Homo sapiens: one gene and its partners. The main gene of each other region encodes a partner of the protein of the gene in region 4 in a complex. Each region holds a gene or a part of one and is shown on either strand. Other genes may lie near its edges.

Evidence for each region.
Region 1: LSM8 (region 4) and TXNL4A share a complex: the UniProt entries of both Homo sapiens proteins name them as parts of the precatalytic spliceosome.
Region 2: LSM8 (region 4) and LSM4 share a complex: the UniProt entries of both Homo sapiens proteins name them as parts of the precatalytic spliceosome.
Region 3: LSM8 (region 4) and SNRNP40 share a complex: the UniProt entries of both Homo sapiens proteins name them as parts of the U4/U6-U5 tri-snRNP complex.

The regions. Positions count from the first base shown.
Region 1 is NC_000018.10:79,971,553-79,978,576, forward strand, and holds part of TXNL4A (thioredoxin-like protein 4A), read right to left. Parts: intron 6,150-7,024; coding exon 6,046-6,149; intron 5,236-6,045; exon of another isoform or gene 5,166-5,235; intron 2,305-5,165; coding exon 2,133-2,304; 3' UTR 1-2,132. UniProt on the Homo sapiens protein: Plays a role in pre-mRNA splicing as component of the U5 snRNP and U4/U6-U5 tri-snRNP complexes that are involved in spliceosome assembly, and as component of the precatalytic spliceosome (spliceosome B complex).
Region 2 is NC_000019.10:18,313,077-18,320,100, forward strand, and holds part of LSM4 (U6 snRNA-associated Sm-like protein LSm4), read right to left. Parts: exon of another isoform or gene 6,441-7,024; intron 4,605-6,440; exon of another isoform or gene 2,990-4,604; coding exon 2,948-2,989; exon of another isoform or gene 2,593-2,947; intron 1-2,592. UniProt on the Homo sapiens protein: Plays a role in pre-mRNA splicing as component of the U4/U6-U5 tri-snRNP complex that is involved in spliceosome assembly, and as component of the precatalytic spliceosome (spliceosome B complex).
Region 3 is NC_000001.11:31,293,782-31,301,002, forward strand, and holds the start of SNRNP40 (U5 small nuclear ribonucleoprotein 40 kDa protein), read right to left. Parts: upstream 3,008-7,221; 5' UTR 2,971-3,007; coding exon 2,830-2,970; intron 1-2,829. Other genes in the region: ZCCHC17 (zinc finger CCHC domain-containing protein 17), read left to right, coding at 3,301-3,432. UniProt on the Homo sapiens protein: Required for pre-mRNA splicing as component of the activated spliceosome. Component of the U5 small nuclear ribonucleoprotein (snRNP) complex and the U4/U6-U5 tri-snRNP complex, building blocks of the spliceosome.
Region 4 is NC_000007.14:118,179,652-118,187,177, reverse strand, and holds the start of LSM8 (LSM8 homolog, U6 small nuclear RNA associated), read right to left. Parts: upstream 3,015-7,526; 5' UTR 2,955-3,014; coding exon 2,924-2,954; intron 1,525-2,923; coding exon 1,484-1,524; intron 1-1,483. UniProt on the Homo sapiens protein: Plays a role in pre-mRNA splicing as component of the U4/U6-U5 tri-snRNP complex that is involved in spliceosome assembly, and as component of the precatalytic spliceosome (spliceosome B complex).

The DNA of each region.
Region 1 (7,024 bases), on a different chromosome or scaffold from region 4:
CTCCTGGGCTCAAGCAATCTGCCTGTCTCAGCCTTCCAAAGTGCTGGGATTACAGGCTTGAGACACCTGCACCCGGCCCATGTTTAACTTTTTGACGACCTGCCTGCCTGTGTTACCACTTTGCCACCAGCAGTGTGTGAGGGCTCCAATTTCTCCACATCCTTGCAAACGCTTGTTGCGATCTTTTTGTATCTAGCCGAACTTGTAGGTGTGAAGTGGCGTCTCACTGTGGTTTTGATTTGCACCTTCCTTAACAAGCAGTGATGCTGAGTGTCTCTTCGTGTGCTTCCTGGCCGTCTGTTTCACCTGCTCTGGAGAAATAGCAGGAGTGTAATACTGAGTGTCTGTTACATGCCAGGTACTCGAGGTCACATACACGTTCTCCCTAGCCCCTCATTCCGATACGCTGTTGCACTCTCCTACTTTATACATAGAAAAATCAGCACTTGGGAGATTAAACTGCAGATTTGCATTTGAATTTTAAATCCATTTAAAAAGCACACACTCATTTGTACTGTATGTAAAAAATGTGCTTCATTCTGTAAGTACCCTCCCGTTTCCACAACAGCAATCAATCTCCCGACAGCAGCGAGCCCTGTGCACCACTCCTGTGCCCGGCAGGCACCACGTGCTTCTGCGTCCACATCTGTGTGCAGGGCAGACACTATTATCCGCCTTTACCAAGGAGGAAACAAAGCTCAGAGAAGGTACCCTGCCCAAGGTCACTTGGTGGGGCAGAGCCTGGGTCTGAGGTCAGAGGGCCCACGGTGTGCTCAAGTGCCCCCATCCCTGCCCTTCCTCACTTTCACTTCAGAGCTCGAGTGTGCTGAGACGGGACACGAAGATCCCAACCAACCATCCACACTGCTAGGATGACAGAGGGCAAGAGAAACCTGAGACTGTAATAAGGACATTTTCTTTTCTTTTTTTGAGACGGAGTCTTGCTCTGTTGCCCAGGCTGGAGTGCAGTGGTGTGATCTCGGCTCACTGAAACCTCCACCTCCCGGGTTCAAGCAATTCTCCTGCCTCAGCCTTCCAAGTAGCTGGGATTACAGGCACGCGCCACCATGCCCAGCTAATTTTTGTATTTTTAGTAGAGACGGGATTTCACCATGTTGGCCAGGCTGGTCTCGAACACCTGACTTCGTGATCTGCCCACCTCGGCCTCCCAAAGTGCTGGGATTACAGGTGTGAGCCACCGTGCCTGGCCAATAAGGAAATTTTCTAACTATATGAACTGAAGGGCCATGGCTTCTACAGAAAATATGTTTACATCAAATACAATCTTGGGAAGAATAAAAAATAGCTCTCCTATTCCTTACAGGGAAGGCTATAAACAATATTTTATTGTACTGTTTTTATAACCAGAGTAAACCTTTGGATTCTGTCATGGATTGAATTGTGTAACCGCAAAATTTATATATTGAAGTCCTAACCCCCAGCACCTCAGACTGTGACTTTTGTGGACATAAGATCCTTGCAAATGTAATTAGTTAAGATTAGGCCATGCTGGAGCAGGGTGGGCCCCAATCCAACACAGCTGGTGTCACTACGAAAAGGGGAAATTTTGGACACCAGCACCCACACAGGGAGGACACAGGTGAAGGCAGAGATGGGGCGAAGTATCCACACACCAAGGAACTGAAAATACCACCAGCAGCCCCCAGAAGCCAGGGACAGGCCTGAGCAGATTCCCCTCACGGCCTCAGCAGTGACCCCCCACCCGCGACACCCTGATCTCAGACCCCCGCCTGCAAAGCTGTGAGAGCACACATCTCTGTTAAAGCCCAGCTCGCGGCATATGCTGTCACCGCAGCCCCAGCAAACCAACCCAGTATGCAAAACGCACAGGCTCACAGGATAAACACCTTCGTTTTACTCCAAGGGTAAGAATTAACTTTGACTAGGAAAATCAGTAATCTATTCATTAAGTTTCCTGAGAACAAACAAGTAGGCCTGCTCCTCTCACCACGTGCTTGTTTATTTCGGTGAGTTAAGACCATGTTATCAATTCCATCTCAGAGGTGCTCCAGCCCTGGAGCTTCCTGTATTTTCCAAAGGCTTTAAATAGCTTAAAACGTTTCCATACAAAAAGGGCTCCACGACATTTATCCGCGCAGACTGAGGGCGCCTCAGTAGCGGTACTTGGTGGAGTAGTCCTTGGGGGACACCACCAGGCCGCGGCCTTTGCGGGCCCCGCGGTACACCGTCTCGATGATGTCCACCATCTCCTGCTTGTCCTCCATGGCCCAGTTAATCTTGTTGTTGTTGCCAGTCCCCAAGTCAATCATGATGTGCTTGTTCCTGCAACGAGAAACAAGGGCATCCATTCTCATAGAAGTCTCTTTAAAAAAGAATTCCTTGAAAACAATGCCGTATTTTTCCCACTGTGACAAGCTCTTGTTAACATCACTGAAGAACGCATAAAATCGAGAGTGTATGCCATGATGCAGGAGAATACAGGAAGCAGCTAAATGTGTTTTTAAAGATGCAATGCATTGTCCACCATGCTCTTTCCTGCATTTTTCTGTATTTATTTAGGACAGTTATTCTAAGGGGAAATTAAAAGGTCAAAGGAGGGCAGGCGCAGTGGCTCATGCCTGTAATCCCAACTCTATGGGAGGCTGAGGCAGGAGGATCACTTGAGGCCCGGAGTCCGAGATCAACATGGATAACAAAATGAGACCCCCATCTAATTTGTACTAATTTACCTGATAAAAGCAATGTGTAAGTTTTTCACAGTGCTCTTATGAGCAATGACATAAATTGTATTAAAAGCCCTTCAACTATGAAATGAAGATGACATTTTGCATGTTTATGGTTAGGGAAGTAGATAATTCTTTACTTATCTTTCAAGAGACTAGTTCTTTTCCTCATGAATACTCATGTGCACTTTACAAGATAAGGATATTAACCCTTTGTTGTACTGGCATAAATTTATCCTGGTTTGTTGAAGTTTCTTTTTGAGATGGGGTCTCACTGTCATCTAGGCTAGGGCATAGTGGCAAAATCAACCTCCTGGCCCAAATGATCCTCCCACCTCAGCCCTCTAAGTAACTGGGACCACAGGCACGAGCCACCACACCCAGATAAATTTCTAGTTTTTTGTAAAGATGGGGTGTCCCCATGTTGGCCAGGCTGGTCTCAAACTCATGGCCTCAAGTGATCCTCCCACCTCGGCCTCCCAAAGTGCTGGGATTACAAACGTGAGCCACTGTGCCGGCCTGATTATTTTTCTTAGAGATGCGAGCTATGTTGCTAAGGCCGGACTCAAACCCCTAGCTCCAGTCCCACCCCGGCCTGCAGAGTGGCTGGGCTGCAGGCATACCCCACCTAAAGACTGTTTTTTAACGTTCACTTCCACAAGATCATGCATTTGGCTTCCACCTACTATTCCGTAGAAAGTATTCCCCGTGAAGTCTCTGGTTCAGGAGAGGCAAATCTGATCAGGGTCTGGAGCCCACCTCTGGCCGCCCTCTCATTCTCCATGCTGCAGGCAGGCCCTACATGCAGCATGCACCAAGCTCCTTCTACAATGACTGGGGGCTGCCCGTAGCACCCTCCCTGCAGCCCTATCTGACCTGGGTGTACTTCTTCGGTATTTATATCTCATAAACATCTGCCTCCTTTCACTTCTTCAGAACCCCCTGCTAATTTACTCAGCTGTTTCTATCAGACAACGTCCTATGAGAGTGGGAATCCTGTCTTATCTGACATTAGGCTCCACCACTAGACCACAAACCTGGTGGGGGCTCAAGATATATGTTTGGTGCATAAGTTAACTAAAGTACCGTTTGTCTTAAAATTCTAAATCACAGAAACAGCAGAAGGAAGTTTCATCTCCTTTTCTGAGTACAGCATCAGTCCTAAAAATATCAAACTACACTAAGTAGGCTGCTCCCGCCACCCAAGGCTGTTGCCTGCAGCCTCCTTGCCCCTCACAGCATCTCCAGCCCCAGGCTGGCCTCCACTGCACGCTGTGGGGGGCAGAGACCTAAGACGGCCCTCCCTGTTCTCACCTGAAGAATTCTGAGGGGCAAAATAGAAAAGGCCTCTATTGCCTCGAACAGGCTGTTAACAGAAATATGGACTTCAGGAACACCTGGTGTGGGCTTGGAAGGAAGTGAGGAGTGTGTTACTGGGAAACGGAGAAAAGGGGACCCCCGTTACAGAGTGGCCGAGGAACAGGGACACGGGGTCCGCAGTTATAGGAAGTCAGAGCTCAAAAGCAACACACTCGGGATATTTAGCTGCGGAAACTTCCAAGCAAAGTCTCGGAGGTGCTGCCTTCAAGAGAGGAAAGAGGCAAATTAGTGTAAGAACTGTTAACAAAAGGAATAAATTCTTTAGCCTCTCCGGATGGCCAAAGGGGCTGAAATTCAGAAATGGCTGCTGAACACACAGTAGAGAAAAGGATGAGGGTCAGCCACGCAACCTTTGCTGAAACCTAGGAAAGATGAAAAGTTCACAAGAAATGCAGGGTGCACCTCACAGATCTTCTCAACCTAACAGGAGGCACCTAGGAAGCCAAGGGCGTGTCCAGGGGAGCGTATCCCGACGCCCAGAACCACGGCAGTGCCTCACGCTTTGGCAGCCTGAGGCGGGAGGATGGCTCGAAGCCAGGAGTTCAAGCTTGCTGTGATGGTGCCACTGCACTCCACCCTGGGTGAGAGTGAGACTCCATCTCAATAAATAAATAAAACAAGGTCACTATCCTGGATTATTTGGGCAAGTCTAATCTTATCACAGTCCTCTAAAACCAGAGCATTTTCTCAGGCAGAACTTTTCAGGTCAGAGAACCTGTGTGAAAAGTTCTCAATGTGCCGGCATGCCAGTGCTGGCTTTGAGGGTAACTGGGTCTCTGGCAGCAGAGTGGCCTCAGGTAACAGCAGCAAGGAAGCAGATCTCAGACCCACCACCACGAAGAGCCAGACTCGGCCCACAACCCAAACAAGCCCCTCAAACACTCCAGATAAGCACCCAGCCCATGGTTCAGACCTTGTGAGACCCTGAGCAGGAATCCAGCGGGCCCTGCCTGGATGTCTGACTTACAGAACTGTGAGCTCAGAAAAGCGGGGTGATTTAAGCTGCTCAATGCGTGCTAATTTGTTACAAAGAATACAAAACTAACGCATACCCTATACAACCCACCTGACCTTCCTTACCGAGTAGGAGGCTCCACTTTTGGAGAATGGTCTAATGCTCATGTAGCTAATTCACCAACCTCTATGGTAACTAAACAAGTAAAAACAGCATCAGATGGTGATTTCTTTCCCCATTAAATTTCCATAATGAAATTTTTGAGCTGATAAAATAATCTTGTATTTATAAGCAAAGTAGTTCAGGTGTTCCTCTTGGATATAAAAAAGGACACCGAAGTTGATGATAACATATTTAATAAATTAGGTTTTTGATTTTTTTTTTTGAGACGGAGTTTTGCTCTTGTTGCCTAGGCTGGAGTGCAATGGCATGATCTCGGCTAACTGCAACCTCCACCTCCTGGGTACAAGTGATTCTCCTGCCTCAGCCTCCCAGTAGCTGGGATTACAGGTATGCACCACCACGCCCGGCTAATTTTGTATTTTTAGTAGAGACTCGGTTTCACCATCTTAGCCCAGCTGGTCTCGAACTCCTGACCTTGTGATCCACCCACCTCGGCCTCCCAAAGTGCTGGGATTACAGGCGCTTTGAGCCACTGTGCCCGGCCTAAATTTGTGATTTTACAACATTTTTGATGAACAGATTATAGTTCCAGGTATCTAAAATGTCAGTAACAACATCTTTCATTGAATTACACTTCACCTAGGTTTCCCCGCAAAGTTATTTCAAAAGGGTAATTTGTTACTGAGTAAATGCTAAAACTAGAATTGTTACTTTGAAAATTATTTCAAAGATTCACACTGATTGCCTGGTGATACAAACGATTTTGGGACATGACTGTACAACCAACTTCCTTCAAAATAAAATAATCTAAAGAGATCTTGATTACATTAAGCTTCCAAACTGACAATATTCAATTTCAGTAACAACTTTAAGATAACGTACCTGAAGAAAAACATGACAGTACATGGATCGTATAACTCATACATTTTGTTGAAGTCAGGCACTTCTGTAATATCCACAAGATAAATAACTGCAAAATTTTTAACCTAAAAGGAGATTAAAAAAAAAAACTGAAATAACAGAACACTTTGGCTTTCATTTTATAGAAGCACATTTATAAAAACAAAACCAAGAATTTGTGTGGATCAGGGCAATTTTTGTTTTGTTTTTTTGAGACAGGGTCTCACTCTGTCATCCTAGAGTGCAATGGTGCAATCAGCTCACTGCAGCCTCGACCTCCCAGGCTCAAGCTATCCTCCCACCTCAGCCTCCCAAAGTGCTGGGATTATAGGAGTGAGCCATCACTCCTGGCCAACGGGGCAATTTTCAAACTAATTCTTCAACATTTTTTCCCAGTGCAGCAAACACGCGGGAAGATCATGTGACACTACTGGGACCTTGGCCACCGGCTCCTTCCGCCTCACGCCACCGTTTCCCAGAATAGTTCAGGAATTGGCCGCTGGCTCCTTCCGCCTCACTTTACCATCTCCCAGAATCGCCCAGGAATTAAATTTCACTCAGGTAACAAGTTATCAAAGTCCTGCAGAAAACGTCCACAGACATATTATTTATGCTGATCTAGTAATCATCTGTATGAACCTTTACAAATAGTTACATGCATCTCACAACTGCTCTAAAATATACCTGTAGAATCCTGCCATCATTTCCCCGCAATTAGGTCTGAACACTTGCAAATATTAATAGTACCTCCAATAATACTGCATATAACACATTTTCTGTTATTTTTTCTTTAATTGCAAGTTTATCAGAGATTTAGAAAAGTCAGAAAAATAAAAAGAAAATAAGATCACCTCCAATCCCAACACCTAGGGGTGACTGCTGCTATCTTTTTTCCAGAGACAGGATCTGGTTCTGCTGCCCAGGCTGGAGTGCAGTGGCAAGATCTTGGCTCACTGCAACC
Region 2 (7,024 bases), on a different chromosome or scaffold from region 4:
GGCATGGTGGTGCATGCCTGTAGTCCCAGCTACTCGGGAGCCTGAGGCAGGAGAACTGTTTGAACCCAGGAGGCGGAGGTTGCAGTGAGTTGAGATAGGGGGAGGTTGCAGTGAGCTGAGATCGCACCACTGCACTCCAGCCTGAGCAACAGAGTGCCACTTGGTCTTAAAAAAACAAAAAACTAAGAAACACAGAAATGTTTAAAGGAATAAGTGAGACAATGGTGATGGTGGCCACTGATCCAGGGTGGCTGGGGGCCAGGTGGGCACAGCTGGGCTGGTCCTGGCAGGCACCCCCACAACACCAGATATTTGGGCTTCAGTGTTCCACAAATGCTGTTTTTTACTGCAATAATTACTCATCTATTTTGGTATGTTTTGAGAACAAAGATAAGTAGCAGATCATTCTGAGGATATGCTGCTGTTAGGAAAAGACTGATATTTTTTGGTGTCTTTTATGAGACAGGGTCTTGCTCTGTTGCCCAGGCTGGAGTGCAGTATCGTGATCATGGCTCACTACAGCCTCAACCTCCTGGGCTCAAGCCATCCTCCCACCTCAGTTTCCCTAGTAGCTGAGACTATAAGCGCACACTACCACATGTGGTTAATTTCTTTTCCTTTTGTAGAAGTGGGGTCTCACTGTTGCCCAGACTGGTCCCAAACTCCTGGGCTCAAGTGATCCTCCTGTCTTGGCCTCCCGGGGTGCTGGGATTATAGGCATTAGCCACCACACTCAGTCCAAGCCTGAGATTTTCTTTTGAGATGGAAGTTTCTCTGTTGTTGCTCAGACTGGAGTGCAATGGTGTGATCTCAGCTCACTGCAACTTCTGCCTCCCGGGTTCAAGTGATTCTCCTGCCTCAACCTCCCAAGTAGCTGGGATTACAGGCGCCTGCCATCACGCCCAGCTAATTTTTTAGTAGAGACGGGGATTTCACCATGTTGGCCAGGCTGGTCTTGAACTCCTGACCTCAGGTGATCCACCCGCCTTGGCCTCCCACCAGGGCTGAGATTTTTAAATGACTCAACTTAGGCATCTGCCCAAGAGAAATGAACACAGGCAACCATACAAAAATGTGTGCGTGAATGTTCACAGTGACACTGTTCGCAATAGCCAAAAAGGGGAAAGAGCCCAGATGCCTATCAGCAGACAAACACATAAACAAAATGTAGGCCGGGCGTGAGCCTGTAATCCCAGCACTTTGGGAGGCCGAGGCGGGCGGATCACGAGGTCATGAGATCGAGACCATCCTGGCTAACACAGTGAAACCCCGTCTCTACTAAAAAAAAAATACAAAAAAAATTAGCCAGGCGTGGTGGCGTGTACCTGTAGTCCCAGCTCCTCAGGAGGCTGAGGCAGGAAAATGGCGTGAAACCAGGAGGCGGAGCTTGCAGTGAGCCCAGATCACTCCAGGCTGGGCGACAGAGCTAGACTCCCTCTCAAAAAAAAAAAAGTGGTAAGTATCCGCTCCACGGAGTATCGTCTGGCTATAAGGAATGAGGCACTGACACAGGCCACAGGGTGGATGAACCTCAAAAACACGTTGCTGAGTGACAACCACCAGGCTCGAAAGGCCTCATGGTCTCCGTTCGCATGCATGGGAAATATCCGGAATAGGCAACCCCACAGAGACGGCAGCTGCCTCATGCTCATCAGGGACTGGGGCTGGGAAGTGACTGCTGATGGAAATGGGCTTTCCTTTTGTGGAGACGGAAATGTTCCGGCCTAGATAAAGGTGGTGGTTACACAACCTGTGACTGCACCAAATGCCACTAAATTGTGCACTTTAACTGAAGTGTTAGTATGTAATATTATCCTTTTTTTTTTGAGATGGAGTCTCGCTCTGTCACCCAGGCTGGAGTGCAGTGGCGCGATCTCAGCTCACTGCAAGCTCCGCCTCCCGGGTTCACGCCATTCTCCTGCCTCTGCCTTCCAAGTAGCTGGGACTGCAGGTGCCCGCCATCACGCCCGGCTAATTTTTTTGTATTTTTAGTAGAGACGGGGTTTCACCGTGTTAGCCAGGATGGTCTCGATCTCCTGATCTGCCCGCCTCGGCCTCCCAAAGTGCTGGGATTACAGGCATAGAGCCACCACGCCCGGCCAATATTATCATTTTTTGGAGACAGGGTTTCACTGTCACCCAGCGACCTGCAACCTCAAACGCCTCAGGCTCAGGTGATCCTCCTGCCTTAGGCTCCCAACTAACTGGAACTACAGGTGCACGCCACTACACCCAGCTAATTTTTATATTTTATGGAGAGACGTGGTTTCTCCATGTTGCCTAGACTGGTCTCTGAACTCCTGGGCTGAAGCCATCCTCTAGCCTCAGCCTCCCAAAGTGCTGGAATTATAGGCCTGAGCCACCATGCCCAACCTGAAGTTCTTTTTATTTTTTTAAGTGACAGGGTCTTGCTATATTGCCCAGGTTGGATTTGAACTCCTGGGCTCAAGTGATCCTTCCACCTCATTAATTTTCTTTTTCTAGAGACAAGGTTTCACTCTGTCGCTCAGACTGGAGCGCAGTGGTATGATCATAGCTCACTGCAGCCTCAAACTCCTGGGATCAGTCGATCCTCTTGCCTCAGTCTCCTGAGTAGCTGTGACTATAGGCACACACCACCTCATCTGGCTAATTTTAAGTTTTTCTTCTTGCCCAGGCTGATCTCGAACTCCTGAGCTCAAGCGATCCTCCTGTCTTGGCCTCCCAAAGTGCTGGGATTACAGGCGCGAGCCACTGCAACTGGCCCATTAAATTTTTAGTAAGTATGTATGTATTACTCTTACAAGCAGCAGAAATGACAGGAGTGTGGACACTCCTGGGGAGGGAGAAGAGAGCAAACTGCCATGCTGGTGGACAGGCAGGCCAGGAAGCCGTCTGCTCAGCCACCGCCCCTGTGCTGAGGCTGGCCCCCTCTCAAACAGGCTTTCCCAGACCACTGAGTACTCACCATGGGGTGATTCTGAGCCGTCTTCAGCAGTGACAAGGGAAGCTGAAAGGCAAATAAAGCCACATGATTTGTCTGTTTGACCAGCGCCTGGGAGCTCTGGTCTTGAGTCCCACCCATGACTCATAGATGGTGCGGTGCGGTTGAGGGGGCACAGGAGTGCGTGTCAATCACCCCCCACTGGAAATGCCATTTCCTCACTCTGCCCAGCCCTGGAACACACACCTGCCTCTCAGATTAGGAAGAAAAGCCTCACACACCCTCCCTACTCCCGTAGGTGGCCACCACCTGCTCTTGGTGCTGAACACTCTGGTCAATTTTTTTTTTTTTTTTTTTTTTGAGACGGAGTCTCGCTCTGTCACCCAGGCTGGAGTGCAGTGGCATGATCATGGCTCACTGCAACCTCCACCTCCCGTGTTCAAGCCTCACAAGCAGCTTGCCTCAGCCTCCCAAGCAGCTGGGGACAACAGGCATGCGTCACCACACCCAGCAAATTTTTGTATTTTTAATAAAGGCGGGGTTTCACCATGTTGGCCAGGCTAGTCGCAAACTCCAGACCTCAGGTGATCCACCCGCCTCGGCTTCCCAAAGTGCTGGGATTACAGGCATGAGCCACCGTGCCTGCCCTAATGCTTGTATTTTAAGCTCAAACTGGTATCTCTGAGATGCATCCATGTTGATGAGGTTACTCTGAGTATGGAGTTGAGGACACTACAGCTTGGAAACCCGAGGAACTTGCCCAGTACTATGGCGCTAGGAGGAGACAGAGCTGGCCTGGTCCTGTCTGTCTGAAGCAAGCACAAGACCATGCCTTGCAGGGCAGCCCCAACTGGCCCAAGACTGACACTGCCAGGCCCCAATGCAGGGGTCAATCCCATCAGAGAAGGCCACATCTGAGCTGGTTTTATTTTTATTTTTTTAGATGAAGCCTTGCTCTAAAAATACAAAACTTTGCTGGGCACGGTGGTGCGCATCTGTAGTCCCAGCTACTTGGGTGCTGAGGCAGGAGGATTGCTTGAGCCTGGGAAGCAAGCCTGTCACCCAGGCTGGAGTGCAGTGGTGTGATCTTGGCTCACTGCAACTTCCACCTCCCGGGTTCAAGTGATCCTCCCGCCTCAGCCTCCCAAATAGCTGGGATTATTAGGGGTGCACCACCATGCCCAGCTAATTTTTGTACTTTTAGTAGAGATGGGGTTTCTCCATGTTGGCCAGGCTGGTCTTGAACTCCTGACCTCAAATGATCTGCTTGCCTGGTCCTCCCAAAGGGCTGGGGTAACAGCATTGAGCCATCACCCCCCGCCTGAACTGGGTTTTCTTTTTTTTTTTTTTTGAGACGGAGTCTCGCTCTGTCGCCCAGGCTGGAGTGTAGTGGTGCAATCTCGGCTTACTACAAGCTCCGCCTCCCGGGTTCATGCCATTCTCCTGCCTCAGCCTCCCGAGTAGCTGGGACTACAGGCGCCCACCACCATGCCCGGCTAATTTTTTTTTATTTTTATTTTTGTATTTTTAGTAGAGACAGGGTTTCACCGTGTTAGCCAGGATGGTCTCGATCTCCTGACCCCGTGATCCGCCTGCCTTGGCCTCTCAAAGTGCTGGGATTACAGGCGTGAGCCACCGCACCCGGCCCTGAACTGGGTTTTCAAAGACAGGAAGTCACCAGGTAAGGTGAACTTTCAAGATTTTTTTTTTTGATGGTGACAGGCTTTTACTATATTGCCCAAGCTGGTTTTGAACTCTTGGCCTCAGGGAATCCTCCCATCTCAAGCTCCCAAGTAGCTGGAATTATAGGTATGCACCACCACGCCTGGTTTCAAGATGTTTTTTTCCATCATTACTGAATTTCTTTATTATGTCAAATATGTAGTATTTCTATTACTGGGGGGGAAATCAACACTTTCATTTTGGAAACAGAAAACTCAACCCGTACGCTGGGAGCTGCCTCGGGTAACGCAGAGCTGTGCCTGGGTGCGGGGTCCTATAACATGCCCGTTCTAGTACTGCCATGAGGAAGGCCCCAGCACCAAGGGGCCCTGACAAGACAGTGCCTCATGGGACACAGGCTTCACCTAGCCCTGTCCTGGTGACTGGAATTCCAGGTGGCCCTGACCCCAGATGCCTTTGCTGGGAGTCCTGCCCTGGCCACCACCCTAATCCACAGTGTGGCTGCTTTTCCAGGTGGTGTGAACTTGAAGGCCTCTCCCTGTGGAGGCCGGAAATGGCCCTCAACCCTGGCCGGGTGGCTCCCCAATGAAAGGAAGGGGTTGGGGAGGGAATCCTACATCCCACAGCCCCTTCCTGAGAAGAGCTGCCCAGGGGAGGTTGGTGCCAGCAGGAAGCCAGGCCCAAGCCCACTTCCTGCACCGGCTTCCTGGAAGAGCCAGATAAGGGGGAAGAAAGGGCCATGTGGCCCCGGGGCAGCTGCTAGGAGAGGCAGGGGAGGAGGGCTGCGGGCGGCTGGGTGTGCATCTGACTGGGTGCCACCAGCCACAGAGAAAACACAGGAGCCACAGACTGGCACACGGGTCTCATGCCCAGGTCGCCCTTTACTGTGAAGAAGCCGTGGGTTTTCCTCAGCAAGCCTGTTTTCTTTCTCTAGTCCGTAACAGGAACGGGACCTTGGACCTCCTCCTGGATCACCAGGGAAGGCGCAGAGGTCAGGCTAGCCCTTAAAGGCCCACCTCTCATTCTGCAGAGGAGGCGCCAGCGCCCACAGCAGAAGTGACCTGCCCAGGGACATCCAGCAAGGCCCTGGCAAAGCTGCCCAGAGGCAGGTAGCTTGTAGACACACCTTCCATGCCAGTGACAGACCCTCTTGGGCCACCACCTGGTCTCAGCGACCAATAGCACAGCCTGGGAGGACCCACGGCCTCCTTGCCTGTCACTTGCAGTCCCATCCAAAAAGCAGCAGAAAGAACATCTGAGAAACAAAGAGAGCTGGTGGGATGGCCACGGAGGCTCTCGCCTGTAATCTCGGCACTTTGGGAGGCTGAGGCGGGCAGATCACCTGAGGTCAGGAGTTCCAGACCAGCCTGGCCAACATGGCAAAACCCCACCTCTACTAAAATACAAAAATTAGCTGGGCGTGGTGGTAGGCAACTGTAATCCCAGCTACTCAGGAGGCTGAGGCAGGAGAATCGCTTGAAACCAGGAGGCAGAGGTTGCAGTGAGCCAAGATTGCGCCACTGCACTCCAGCCTGGGCAACAGAGCGAGACTGTTTCAAAAAAAAACAAAAAACAAAAAAACAAAACAAAAGAAAGACTGGCTAGGCGCCGTGGCTCATGCCTGTAATCCCAGCACTTTGGGAGGCCAAGGTGGGCGGATCACGAGGTCAGGAGTTCGAGACCAGCCTGGCCAATATGGTGAAACCCCATCTCTACTAAAAATACAAAAATTAGCCAAGCATGGTGGCGCACACCTGTAGTCCCAGCTACTTGGGAGGCTGAGGCAGAAGAATCGCTTGAACCCAGGAGGCAGAGGCTGCAGTGAGCTGAGATTGTGCCACTGCACTCCAGCCTGGGTGACAGTGACACTTCATCTCAAAAACAACAACAACAACAACAAAAAACCCAAATAGGGTTGGTGCAGACCCACTCTCACAACACTCCTCAGGCCCGCTATAGAGTCAAGGCAGACAGGCTCTGCCACACTGGCCGCCACACCCATTCCTGCCACCTGACCTTTGCTTCTGCTATTGCCTCTGCCTGGGGTGACCTTCCCCAGGCTGCTGAAACGTCACCTCCTTTGGCCAGGCCCTTTTAATGGCCACCCTCTGCCTCATGGGTGTTTGTTTCCATCATAGGATGCAGCCAGTCTTTAATTACCTTGTTTATTACCTGTGTCCCTCGCTAGACTGGAACACTCAAAGTGGGTGTGGACTTTGTCCAGGGCCAAGCACAAGGCCAGGCACATGAGAGGGACTCGGTAAATATTTGCTGAATAAATACACAAGAAAAATGCACACACTACCCAGGGAGGCATGCAGGGAAGGCAGAACACTCGCCCCACCCCACAGGTAAGGGAAGGAGTGGCTGCGGGACAGGGAGCTGCCTGACTCCCAGGCCCTCCCAGGCTGCAATGGC
Region 3 (7,221 bases), on a different chromosome or scaffold from region 4:
ACGTTGCCTAGGCTGGTCTCAAAATCCTGGCCTCCCTCCTTGGCCTCCCAAAGCACTAAGATTATAGGAATGAGCCACCACATTTGGCCTGGCTCATTTAACAAATGATGGAACTGACTTTCCCAACAACTCTGCTTGGTATGGAGTACTGGGTGAAATAGTTTTGTTTTATTTTTAATTTTTTTTGTGTGTTTTGAGACAGAGTTTTGCTCTGTCACCCAGGCTGGAGTGCAGTGGTGTGATCTCGGCTCACTGCAACCTATGCTTTCTGGGTTCAAGGGATCTGGTGCCTCAGCCTCCCGAGCAGCCAAGATTACAGGCATGCACAACCACGCCCGGCTAATTTTTGTATTTTTAGTAGAGATGGGGTTTCACCATGTTGGCCAGGCTGGTCTCAAACTCCTGGCCTCATGTGATCTGCCTGCCTTGGCCTCCCAGAGTGCTGGGATTATAGGCATGAGCCACTGCACCTGGCCTATTTTTATTTCTTATTTTTTCATAGCAAACGGATCCTCAGCATGGGTGAAGTAGTTTTGATTATGGTCTTGGACACCAAGATGACACTTGGGCAATTCATCTAAACATGGGCTGATATGCTCACTTGTCAAATGGGAGAAGTATACTACCCATAATCCCCAAATCTCTTCAGTACTTCCCAGCATTTTCATATTTATTTATTTATTTATTTATTTTTTGGGGAAGGAGTCTTGCTCTGTTGCCCAGGCTGGAGTACAATGGCGTGATCTCGTCTCATCGCAAACTCCGCCTCCTGGGTTCAAGCGATTCTCCTGCATCAGCCTCCCGAGTGGCTGGGATTACAGGCACCCACCACCAAGCCCGGCCAGATTCATTTAGTTTTAAAAAATGTTATGTGCAGGCTGGGCGCGGTGGCTCACACCTGTAATCCCAGCACTTTGGGAGGCTGAGGTGGGCGGATCACTTGAGGTCAAAAGTTTGAGACCAGCCTGACCAACATGGTGAAACTCCGTCTCTACTAAAAATATACAAAAATTAGCCAGGCATGGTGGCGGGCGCCTGTAATTCCAGCCACTCAGGAGGCTGAGGCAGGAGAATCGCTTGAACCCGGGTGGCGGAGGTTGCGGTGCACCGAGATTGCGCCACTCCACTCCAGCCTGGGTGACAAGAGCAAAATTCCATCTTAAAAAAAAAAAAAAGAAGTTACGTGCTAGGCACTGGGCAAACAGCAATGAACAAAATAAACAATGGAGCTCGCTGTTCCAGTGGGAAAGGGGGAAGGGAGAAGGGAAGGTGAGAGAAAACAAGCAAACTATATATGTGGTGTCATGTGCTATAGAGCAAAAGAAGGGATGGGGATGGTGGCTCATGCCTGTAATCTCAGCATTTTGGGAGGCCAAGGTGTGCGGATTGCTTGAGCTCAGGAGTGAAATCCTGTCTCTACAAAAAAATACAATTAGTTAGATGTGGTGGTGTGTGTCTGTGGTCCCAGCTACTCAGGAGGCTGAGGCAGGAGGATCACTTGAGCCCAGGTGGTGGAGGCTGTACTGAGCCAGTGGTCAACACAGAGAGATTGTCTAAAAACAAAAAAACAAAAAAAGAGAGAGAGAGAAGCAATGTGGGTTCCACAGTATGTGGTACTGCAATTTAAAATAGGGTGGTCAGGAAAATCCTCACTGAAAAAATTACATTTGGGCAAATATTCGCAGGAGCTGAATAGTAAACCATGTAAACATTTGTGAAGAGCAATCCCACAGAGAGGACAGCAAATGCAAAGGTCCTGAAGCAGAGGCTTGGAAGAGAGAGTAACTGAAGCCAGGTGAGCAATAAGAAATTGGTCAGAGAGGTAAAGGGAAAGAGGGCAAATAATTACAAGAATTTTGGTTTTTACTCTGGATGAAGTACAAAGCCACCAGAAAGTTTTCTGCAGAGTGTAATGTGATCTGATGTTTAGAAGGATTCCTTTGGTTATTGGCTTGGTAACAGGTGCTGATACAAAGGTAGAAAGTGGAAGACCAGTTAGGGTCCCACTACAAAAATGCCAGATGAGATAATAATGGCTTAGGCCATGAGGCAATGATGGAGATGGTAGAAGTAGCAATTCTAGACCTATTTTGAGGACGGTGCCAGCAGGATTTATTGAGGAGATGTGAGGACACTCGTATTTCCTCGTCTGAGCCTAAACAGGACATTAGAAGTGTGATCACTATTTCTATCTTACAAAAAATGTAGTTAGGAGCATGGTTTCTCAGTTCGAAATCTGCTTCTATCACGTACTTGGTAAGTCTGTTTTTCCATCTGCAAAATGGGTTAATAACGTTCCTAACAGGCTGCTACCAAGATCAATGGAAATTTCATATACGAAACACTTTAGTACAAGAGTCAATGAATGTTAGCTGCTATTTAGTTGTTAATAATACTAGTGCAGAGAAATAAAGGGAAAAGCAACTTGCCCAAAGTCCCAAAACGAGCCAACACAAATCATTTCCCTTTTTTCTTCCCTCCCTCATTCATTCATTCTACACACTCTTCGGAATTTTTGTTCTATGCCAGATCCATGTTAGAGTCAGGATGCTTAAACCCGGGTCAGGGTTTTGAGCCCAAGGTCCTCAACTCTAATTCTAATGCTATCTCAGGGCAGTCGAGAGGCTGAAAACGGGCGCCAAACGGGGGAACACGTACGCAGCATTCGCAGGCTATGGGGAGCTTTTACAGTGTTTATGTGCTTTAACTCTGCGTAGAAACTCTCGTTCTGCCCCCGCAATGCGGGAAAGGGTCAGGGATCACCAGATACAGCGCTCTGAGGGGAGGAAGATGAGCTGAGGGCCAAAGGCCGCCTGCTTCTTCACTTACCGCTTGCAGCAAGGCTCCCGGCGTCGCCTGCTGCTGCCCGGCTCCTGGGCCAGACCCCGCTCCCAACAGCAACTCATGCCGCTGCCGCTTGACTGGAACCAGCGGCAACTCTGGGCCCTTACGCTTCTGCTGTTCTATCATGGCGGCAACCGGTCTCTTCAGCGCCGCCACTGACCGCGCTGCCGCTCTCAGGCGCCACGCAATTGGTTCCAAATTAGTCCTTCCTCCACAACTTCCAGCTTGGAAGAACCAATCGGCTTTCAATATTTCCATTTGCACCGCCCTCGGATAGTCTCTTGTTATTGGGCATATCTTTCTGACGTCATGAGAGTGCGATACCAGGATTGGTGGACGGAGCTGGCGACCGCCCTAGGCGCGCTGGGTCTTGTGGGTGGAAACGCGCTGGCTGACTGGGGTCGGCGTTTAGTTCAGCGCAGCGACTCGGGGACCTGGAGCTGACGCCTAGTACGTATGAGGAAGAACGGGGTGGGTGGCTGCCTGAGTCTGGAGGCGACGCCTCGGTTGTGCAGTCTGAACCTGCCCTTCTCAGCTGAGGGTGCTGACAGCAAGGGGTGGGAGGCGGGCCCCGAGTCCCCAGCTGTGGTAAGTAGTAGCCTGGGCTCCCTTTCGGGGCAGGAGCGGAGCCTTGGGGTCTCTGGCGGCAAGACCCAGCCCCTGCGGCTCCCTTCTTCAAGAGCGCCCATCGTGGCCAGTCCTGTGCCGGGCATTCCCAGGGAGAAAGGCCTGCGTCCCAGCCTCCTCCGGTGCCCCATTTGGCCGAGGAGGCTGACTTGTTTCTGCCACTGATTTTGCAGTTTTTGATCAGGGCCTACTGTATGCCCCCCTGAGAGAGACAGTGATGAAGGAAATGTCCGACTCCTTCTCCAGAGCACAGTCTTGTTGAGAAATTTGAGACTCATGCCCATGAACGTGGTCATTGCCTCAGTCGTCCTGCTGATATTCATTTAGCAGCGCGTTGGGGGTATGTTGTGAACCGGGCACGGTCCCTACTCTCAGGGCGTTTAACTCTGGTGGGGAAAACGTTAAACAATGACCTCACTAATACATGGAAATGCCTCCTACTGCTGCCTGATGCTATGAGTGCCTGAAATAAGCAGGAAGGTTTTTCAGAGGAAAAGATGCCTGCGCTGGTAGCTGCAGGAAGTGTTGTAATTAATTAGGTGAAGAAGTGAAGGCAGAACCTTCCATAGAGAACTACTTGTTCAGAGCCCTGAGGCACTTGGGAGGAAAATGACTAAAAGCACAAAGAGCCAGTGTGGCTGGTACAAAGAGAATGAAGGGAGTATGGTACAAGATGAAGCTGTACGTGATAGCGGTCAGACCTTGCAGGAATTTGTAGCTTTTATTTTAAAACGGATGAGATACCACTGAGCCGTCTTCCCCCAGTGGGGTGTGGTGGAGGAGGGGACTTGATCCCTCAGGCTCAGTGGTGTGAACAGACGGGGGTTGGGGAAGCCCTAGTCGATGTATGTGGACCACTTGGGATATGCAGTAATCCTGGTCAGAGATGTCAGTGAGGACTGAGATATGGGTGGAACTGCAGAGAATTGGACAGATTCTAGAGGTATATAGGAGGTAAAATGGGTGGGACTTGGTGATGGGTTGATTTTAGGGAGTGAAGAGAGGAATCAAAGGTAACTCCTAGGTTTCTGGCTTATGTAGTTGAATAGATGGTGGTACCATTCACTCACTATCACGGAATCCCTCAAGCTGGATAGGGAACACTAGAAGATGATTAGAGACCAGTTTTTTTTTGTTTTTTTTTTTTTTTTGAGACAGGTTCTTGCTCTGTCGCCCAGGCTGGAGTGTGGTGGTGCAACCTTGGCTCACTGCAACCTCCACCTCCCAGGTTCAAGCAATTCTCCTGCCTTAGCCTCCCCAGTAGCTGGGATTACAGGCGCCTCCACTGTGCCCGGCCAATTTTTGTATTTTTGGTGGAGATGGGGTTCCACCATATTGGCCAGGCTGGTCTCCAACTCCTGGCCTCAAGTGATCCACCTGCCTCAGCCTCCCAAAATTCTGGGATTACAGGCCTGAGCCACTGCTCCCAGCTGAGATCAGTTTTTATTGATTGATTGATTGATTGTGTGGGGTCATTCATGACATCCAAGAGGCAGTTTGAAATACAGCTTTGTGCTCAGAAGAGAGATTTGTGTTGGGAATATAAAATTGGGCATAATTTGTATATACATGAATTGAGCCATAGGTGTGGGTAAGGTCAGCTAAGTCAGAACCTTGACTAGTTCCAACATTTAATGGTGAAGAACAGGTGAACCTACAGGAGATACAGAAGAAAGGAAGGAGGACTGGAAGAATGTCTCAGAAGCAAAAGAATGATTTGTGATAGAAATTTCTAGAATTTAAATAACATGAAGATTGAAAAACATATTTTGGCTTTTATCATCATGGAGGTCACAGTAACCTTAGCAAGAGTTATTTTGTTGGTGTGATTGGGCCAAAAGCCAGATATGAGGCAAGGATTTGGACAAGAAAATGTAGGTAGTGAACCTACACAGTATTTTTCATAGATCTGATTGTAAAGAGGAGGAGAGGATGTGCTAACCGATGGGGATAAGGGATTATCCAGGATCCAGTTGAGGATCCAGTTTTGAGAAATTTGAGAATATTGTAGAAGATTTGAAAGTCACTGTGGAGTGTGGGAGAATGAGGTTACTAGAGAAATGTAGGATGCAAGGAAAAAAAAAATTTTTTTCCAGCATATCCAGCGGTTTAGTGCATGCATGGAGAAAACCTTTCTGGGTATGGCAAGGACATCGCTTGCTCAAGACACATTCTAACCTCTAATATGTCTTCTCTTCCTGAAAAATCTGGAAAACTAAAAACCATTTTCTTGACTCCCTTGCACCTAAGGTGAAAATTGAATTTGGAACTGAGTTAAATGTGGAAAGAAGGAGGGTGTGAGTCATCCAGTTTTGCTGCCAGTCATGGCAGTAAATTTCTCCAGTCAATAGCTCCCTGGTTTGGTGGCTTGCTGCAGTGATAGCCATAACTTTCCTGGATTGTGGCAAAGGTGGTATTATTTTGTGGGTTAGGTGTTGTTCCTGGAAGTTCTGCCAAAGTCTTTTATTGCAATACATCCCTTACTGCTTAAGTGGGTTCTGTTGTCTGCAACTGTCCCTGACCAGGTTAGAGGTACTGCCAGAGAGTTAAATATAAAGACAGAGTTAAAGGGAGTTTAGGGTGTTGTTGGAATGATGGGCTATGGAATCTAAGCTGGATTGGAAGAAAACTGAAGAAAAAGGGGAGGGCTGATAGATTGGAAGAAAATAGAGGCCAATAAATCAGGGTTCTAATGAGGTCAAAGAACAGTATTCTCTGCTAGAGGATTTCTGTTTATCCTAAAAGGCTTATTCAGTTATCTGTTTAACTTCTCTACTTCCCCCAGACCCTCTTTCTCTTCCTAGCTACTACTTTTGTTTGTTTGTTTTGAGACAGTCTTACTCTGTTGCCCAGGCCGATTGCAGTGGCATGATTATGGCTCACTGTAGCCTCGACCTCCCAGGCTCCAGTGATCCTCCCACCTCAGCCTCTCCAGTAGGTGGGATAACAGGTATGTGCCACCATGCCTGGCTAATTGTTGTATTTTTTATAGAGATAAGGTCTTGCCATGTTGTCCAGGCTGGTCTCAAACTCCTGGCCTCAAGTGATCTTGCTGCCTTGGTCTCCCAAAGTGCTACGATTATAGGCATAAGCCACCATGCCTGGCCCCCAAGCTTCTGCTTTAGCACTTATCACATTGCAGTGTAATTGGTGTTATTTTGTGGGTTAGGTGTTGTTCCTGGAAGTTCCGCCAAAGTCTGTTATTGCAATACATCCCTTTCTGCTTAAGTGGGTTCTGTTGTCTGCAACTGTCCCGGGCTAGGTTAGACATACTGCCAGATAGTTAAATATAAAGACAGAGTTAAAGGGAGTTTAGAGTGTTGTTGGAATGATGATATCTGATATCCCTATCAGATTAGGAGGTCTTTGAGAACAGGGACTGTGTTGAAAAGGGTGGTTTAGGCCGGGTGCTGTGGCTCACTCCTATAATCCCAGCACTTTGGGAGGCCGAGGCAGGTGGATCACCTGAGGTCAGGAGTTCGAGACCATCCTGACCAATATGGTGAAACCCTGTCTCTACTAAAAATATAAAAATCAGCTGGGCATGGTGGTGTGTGCCTGTAATCCCAGCTACTCGGGAGGCTGAGGCAGGAGAATCGCTTGAACCTGGGAGGAGGTTGCAGTGAGCTAAGATCGCGCCATTGCACTCTAGCCTGGGTGACAAGAACAAAACTCTGTCTCAAAAAAAAAAAAAGAAAAAAAAGGGTGGTTTAGTGGCAAGTGTGTGTGGCCCTTGGAATGGCCTAAGAT
Region 4 (7,526 bases):
TGAAATCTGTAACTTGGAAGAGAAACAAAATATGGAGTATTTATTGAACTAGTTAGCAAATGGTTGTTATCATAAACATCCATTCATAACTTCTTGACTTCATTTTACACATTATCCCATCAAATAAATTATGTGTCAAAGAAATACAGAACTACTGAACTTTAGAACTTAAGATGCTTTTTATATCACTTTCATTCTTCTTTAAAATTAAAAATAATTTCTCAGTTTATTATCTACCCTGTCAACAAAAATAAGAAAATTTAAACTTAAGGTTTTCACCAAATTAAAAAAAAATGCAAATATCTATTAACAGCAATAGGCTTCCTGAAGTGTTGAAATTAAAATATGTCAAACTGTCCATATTTGAAAAAATACAATGTGAGGTGCCTAAGCAAACATCATTGCTTCCTTAAGAAAGAAGCCAGGCAACTGGCCTTGGCTTTGATGTCAAACCAAATTTAAATCCCAGTTTGGTTCTGTCACTTGCTACCCTTGTGACTCTGAGAAAGTGAGTCACCTTCTCTGAACTTGTTTCCTAATCTAGAATACAGGGGTACTTATTCTTCATAAGTTTTTACTGTACATTAAATAATGTAACATATATGCACCTGGCACATGATATAAATTTAGTAAAGGACAAAGCTAGAACTTTGACTAATAATAGTCACTAAGGACCCAGTGAAAAAAAATCACAAGGCTTAAAAAGAAAATGAACAAAAGCAAAACTGAAGAATGGAAAAATAAGGGATCAAATTATTTAAAGAAACTAGGTAAGGTTAGAAAATAGAGAAAGTTCAGTAGCCTTAAAATTCTTTTGAAAGCATTCAAAGTATGAATTGTAAGTGAAGAAATAACCAAGTACCCAAAAATCTTGAGATGAATTCCTCAGATCAAATTCCAAATACAAGTATCACTATAGGAACGTTTTATCTTAGTTATATGACATAAATTAGCAAGGGAGAAACAACTTCAAGGAACAAGCCAATTTTACATATATATGTGTATATATAGAGAGTCAATCATCATAATGTGTCCTACAGAAGACATGTCACACAACCTAAAAACAAAGAATATTAAGATTGTATACAAGCCTTAAATGTTATCTAGATATTAATAGTATCTAAATCATTAAAAAGTTACTAAGCATATGCAAAATTTCAAAAAAATTCTGATTCATGTGGTGCTGAATGGGGAAGGAAATAAAAATGGAAGAAGAAAAGTAAGTTTAATAAAGGTCTACAGACTAGGAGCTCTCTGAGGGCAGAATCTATTATTCTAGCTCCGAGAAACCTTGTAGGTAACACACAATGTTTATTAGTGAGGAAAACATGGATTGACAGCAAAGTGATAAAGAGCTGAATTATAATAAAATTGCACTACGGGTGTAATGTGCTGTCTAGGCATTAGAGATTAGAGGTTTCACATAAAACTTGCAACCAATAAACCTACAGGAAAGCAGAGAATGAAAATTCCAAAGACTTACCACAATCATTCTCCCATCTGATGTAATAACGGCAACAGTTCCTGATAACTGAATCAAAGAAAGTGTTTCTTAGGGAATGCAAATTGAAAACAGACTCTGGCAAGGGAATGATTTGAATTTTTAGAATAAATATGACAACTAGGTATAAGTATTCAACACAGCCACTAAGTTCACTACATAAAAACGTTAAAAGTTTCTTAGACGCCAAGGCAGGAGGATCACTTGAGGTGAGACCAGCTTGGGCAACACAGCGATACCCCCATCTCTATTACCCTGGCCTGGTGACCTATAGTCCCAGCTACTCAGGAGGCAGAGGCAGAGGCAGGAGGATTGCTTGGGCTCAGGAGTTCAAGGTTGCATTGAGCCATGATCAAGCCACTGCACTCCAGCCTGGGCAACAGAGTGAGACCCTCGACTCAAAAAAAGAAAAAAAAAAAAAAACTTAAAAAAAGCTTCTGTTTTTGTCTTTGTGATAATTACATGATTAAAAAAGGGAAAAAATAGAAAAAGAAAACCTCTTTCTGTATGTGATCGGTGTATCTTATCTCAAAATATCCTGGATTTTTGACACTTTTCTACTAGGAAGGTTACCAATCTATTATTTCAGGCAGGATATTTCGTTTCTTAGGCCTGTTTATTTCTAAAATGAAAAGTGGATGAGTACTAAATTAATCGATGTTGGACGATTTTCCAGCATGTTAAAAAACTGTCTTCCAGGACAGGCTTCTGTAATTCAAAAGTAAAGAAACTATATAAGCAGTGTCACAGGGTACCAATAACGCATCATTAAAAGCATTCGGTATTTAATTTTTGTCACCCAGTTTGTACCTGAGCTTAACGTAGTGTTTTTGTCCTAAGACTTTAAAACGGTAACACTTGTAAAGTCTATTTTAAGACTTCCCATGGGGTTGTTACTTGCTCCTCACTATAATCCATTACAACAGCAACCATTTTTTTTCATTCTACCAACAAGTTGGGACTTCAAGTGGTAAAGGGACAGAAACAGTCTGTGAACCATCGTTAAACTTTTTGCTATCCTCGAACGAGCAAATTATGTGAATAAAACAAGTACAAAGATTTGCAAAACTGTTGTCGCCGCCAGGACGACTGTTCATCTTATTCACAAACTTTAACACTTATGCCATAGGGAAATAGTAAGTAAGAATCAAGAGCGTACATTTTTTTTAAGACAGAAAAGTTCGGAATAATCACACTGGGTTTTTATTTGGGTTTTGCAGGCAAAATGGAAAGGACCCCTGGGCCCGCAGCAGCGGGAAGGCTCGAGGCGCCGCCGGCGAACTCTGGGTCGTTCCGGGGCCCTCATCTCCTCGCCCGCCCCCAGGATCCCGCCGAGGCCAGGCCTCCCAACCTCCCACCGATCCCCGACCGCGGCCTCTCCGCGACCCCGGCTCACGCCCGCGGCGGCCAGCTTGAGGATACGGTTGATGTAGTTCTCCAAAGCGGACGTCATGCTGTTCGGCCCGGCGGTTCCGGGTAACGCAGCGGTGCCGACAGCAAGCAGAACTGAAAGGGCGCGCCAGAACCCGGCAGCGGATAGCGCCTGCGGGTCGCAGCAAATATCGTGAGAGTTGCTGCTCCGCAGCCCTGTGAGTCGGAAATTGGGACGAACTGGCCAACCAAACAGAAGCCGCACAGCGGTGACGAGAGAGTGCGCGTGCGCAGTGTGTTTTCTCTGTAATTCTGGGCCGTGTTCCGGAAGCCTCGTAAGACAAAAGCGAACGAGAGGCGGAAAAAAGGAAGACGCTTCCTGAAGTTGGGGGTATGAGACAGAAGTTGGGGGTATGAGACAGAAGTTGGGGGAGAGTGGGTTTCCAATCCGAGTAAAAGGCAGTGTGGTGGAAGTTAACAAGAGAAAATGTTGAGACGAGGTAGAGCAGGCAGGAATAAACGAAGTAAGGTGTTTTTATTAGGAGTGAAGGAGAGAGACGAGTGCTGTTGTGTGAAACGTAGGTGCGGGTAGTTGAATCCCTAGTTTTCTGCAGCAGAAGCCGAAAATAACGCTAAAAATAAGTTCAGTTGCCCGGGACAGAGTTGCGCACGTTATAACCACACGGTGTACGCCTCTTAAGAACTCAGCAGTGAAATACACTTTCGTATGTTCTGCTTTTGTCTCTAAAAGTGTTCCAAAATGGAGGTGTTTTTACTTTTTAAAGAAACTAAATGCAAATAGGCAAAGGTGTGTGACCATCCCTTAGAAAACGAATGTCCACGCTTCTGCCACGCCAGGATGGTCTACCTTTCTTCAGGGTGAAATTAGTAAGTAAAAGGCTGCTGCAGCACCGAGAAAGGACCGATGCAGGAAGGATGCAGGAAGGCACCAAACTTGGTTCTAATCTTGGCTCTGCTAACAAATTGGTGTCATTGCACAGGTCACTTCAATTCTTCTGGGCCTCAGTTTCGTTAGATAGTCCCATAGGTATCATTTCAGATATTTCCCAATGCGATACTGTTCCCACTTCATTTACTGTTGCCCTAACTTGAGAGAGCTTGAAGTTAGAAAGAGATTTATACACAAAACACCAGCAGGAGCGATTTCCCTTTTTTGCAAAATATCTTTATAATTTCAGTTAAACATGTATTTTCTTAAGATTTGTGGCTTTGTAATAACTCTTGCAATGTCAGCAGTTTTCCTCGGAAAAGGAAGCATTTCTTAATTAGAGCATACCCACAAGATACTCCCAAATAGTTAATATTTTATATTCTGGAACTTATTCCTATCTGTTTGAAATCAAATGTAGTCAGGAATTAGATTGTGAATGTCTCATATTCTCAGGGTAACAAATGAAAGTGTCTTCCGCTAATGAAAGAACAAAGATAATTGTGTGATTTGCAAATGTTAGGTGTTGAACCAAAACCCAAAGACTAATTAATGATTAACGAGGTGTTAGGAGTTTTGTTAAAAAAAGAAATTGCTGGGCATGTTGGTGGGTTCCTGTAACCCCAGCTACTCTGGAGGGTGAGGCAGGAGAATTGCTTCAACCCGGGAGGCGGAGGTTACAGTGAGCTGAGATCACGCCATTCCACTCCAGCCTGGGCGACAAAAGCGAAACTCCATTTCAAAAACAAACAAACAAAAAAACCTCTGTGTGATCTTATAAAAATGAGGCCGGGTGCAGTTGCTAACATCTGTAATCCCAGCACTTTGGGAGGCCAAAGCGGGTGGATCACAAGGTCAAGAGATCAACACCATCCTGGCCAACGTGGTGAAACCCCCTCTCTACTAAAATACAAAGATTAGCCAGCATGGTGGCGGGCACCTGTAGTCCCATATACCAGGGAGGCAGAGGCAGGAGAACCACTAGAACCTGGGAGGTGAAGTTTGCGGTGAGCGAAGATTGTGCCACTGCATTCCAGCCTGGGCGACAGAGCGATACTCCATCTCAAAAAAAAAAAAAAAAAATGAATACTCCCTATGGCTTTTCATCCCTTAGAGTGTGCTTTTGTAAGTCTATTGCCCTGTGTAGTTGTCATTAAATTAATATGCCAGATAAATAACAGATGAACAGTGTTTATGGAGCATCACAAAATCTCTTTGGCTGGAAACTTTTTTACATGTGTCTTAAAATCGCTATATTTTCTGTAGTCTGTAAGGATCACAGATGTAGCGAGAAAACCTATGGATAAATAAAAGTCGGTTTACTAAGACAAAATGAATTACATCTGGATGCAAACATTACATATGTGATTTATCTATATTAGCCATGTACCCTTGGGAGTACATGAATGTAGAAACCTTAGCATCTCATAAAGAAGAATTACATTAAAGCTCCAATAAGGGAAAACTGATACACATAAACATCTGACTACTAAAAAATTAAGAGTTAACAGTGAAACTTGCCCCTTAAGTCGAAACCTCTCAAAGTAATGCTCATTTAAATGACATTATATCACTGATAAAGTATCAACCAAAGTATGCTTGTAATAGATAATTTTATTCCATTACTTCTGAATCTAAATCTTGAGCAGAAAACCTTAACCTAAAGGATCAGACTTCTAGTAGAATCCTAGGAAACTGAATTTGCGCTTCTCTGAATAGTTTATGGAAAACTATCACAATAGCAGTTTTTTAAAATAAAATAATATTTTTAACCTTATGTGATGAGAACTTTTATTTCCTTTTACGCGTTTATGCTTTACTTCCCTACAAGTTGCAAAGGTGTTAACCAATCAGTAATATATATTGAATAGATCTAACTAGAGTTCTCCTAGGCAGAAAAGGACATAAGTAGATCATGCGTCTCTACTTACAAGGAAATTCCTGAATAGTTACAGACCTTTACTTATAAAAATGAAATAATTATTGCATGAAAAAAATGAATATTCCAAATTACAAATAAAGGTAATTGATAGTCTTCATTTAACACTATAAATTACAAAGTGCTTTACTTACTTTTTTCATTTAGGGTAATAAAGACAGGTAGATTTAACTCCATTACTTAAGGGATGGAAAAGATCAAATATAAGTGATTTGTTAATTGAGAAGCAGTTTAGGATCATTATTAAGAACACTGACTCATGAACTGCCTGAATTTTTATTTGTTTGACTTTGAGCATACTTAACCTTCTGTGCCTGTTTCCCCATCTGTAAAATGAGGAAAACTACACAAAACTACATCTAATTGTTGAGGAACTAAAAGTAATACTTGAAGAGCCTGATATATAATGAGTACTCATTGTTATTCAAGGACATAGACTATACCATAAATAACCTTTTTTTTTTTTTTAAAGTCCCAAAGCTTATTCCAATACGGTGTTTTGTTCATGGCCATTTTTTATGATTGGATAGATTCAGCTGTGCACATTTTAAGTGCTTAAGGAAGGGAAAGATGGATATGAGTTCAAATCTTGGGAGGTTTTACAAAACAGGTAAGACTTAAATCAGTGCTTGAGAAGAAGTGCAAATACACTTTAGGAAAATGACCTGACATTAATTTTTTTTTTTTTTTTTTGAGATGGAGTCTCGTTTTGTTACCCAGGCTGGAGTGCAGTGGTGCGATCTAGGCTCACTGCAACCTCTGCCTCCCGGGTTCAAGCGATTCTCCTGCCTCAGACTCCCGAGTAGCTGGGATTACAGACATGCACCACCACGTTTGGCTAATTTTTGTATTTTTAGTAGAGACGGGGTTTCACCATGTTGGCCAGGCTGGTCTCAAAATCCCAACCTCAGGTGATCCGCCCACGTCGGCCTCCCAAAGTGCTGGGATTACAGGCGTGAATCATCACGCTTGGTCCTGACATTAATATTTAGCGGAGGTAAAAACTGAAGATAAAAAGGCCAGCAGGAGTTCAGATATGCGTTTCTGATTTGTAGCAGTAAGAATGGAGAGGCATATTCTGTGCTCACAGAGGTTAATAAGTAATAAAAGAATGGAGAGGCAGAAAAAAAGTGATTTGAAGACAGAGCTTAAGAAAGGTGATGAGGCCAGACCCAGTGGCTCACGTGTAATTTCAGCACTATGGGAGCCTGAGGTAGGAAGATTGCTTGAGTCCAGGAGTTTGAGGCTAGCCTGGGCAAAATGGCAAAACCCCATCTCCACCAAAAAAAAAAAAAATTAGCTGAGCATGGTGTCATGCACATGTAGTGCCAGCTACTTGGGAGGCTGAGGCAGGAGGATAGCTTGAGCCAGGGAGGTTGAGGCTGCAGAGAGCCATGTTGGAGCTACTGCCCTCCAGCTTGAGCAATAGAGTGAAACCCTATCTAAAAATGGAAAAGAAAAGAAATGAGGCAGACAGCAAATCCTAGGTGGCATAGTAATGGTGGTTGGTGAATCAGAGGTTAGCAAGATTAGGGAGACACAGGAAAAGGCAAGACTGCTTGTTAACAAAGTAGATGGGGCCAATCTGTAGAACTGTGTAAACATGATACACTTTGCTCACTAGCCAATGGCAAGGCCACGGAACATACTGGTGATACTTACACGGGCATATACTTTACCTTAAAGATCTGGAGAACCGGTATATCTCAGGAGGCCCTCTGTTTCACCTCATAAGGGGCAATATATATTAATAAAATACTTACGTA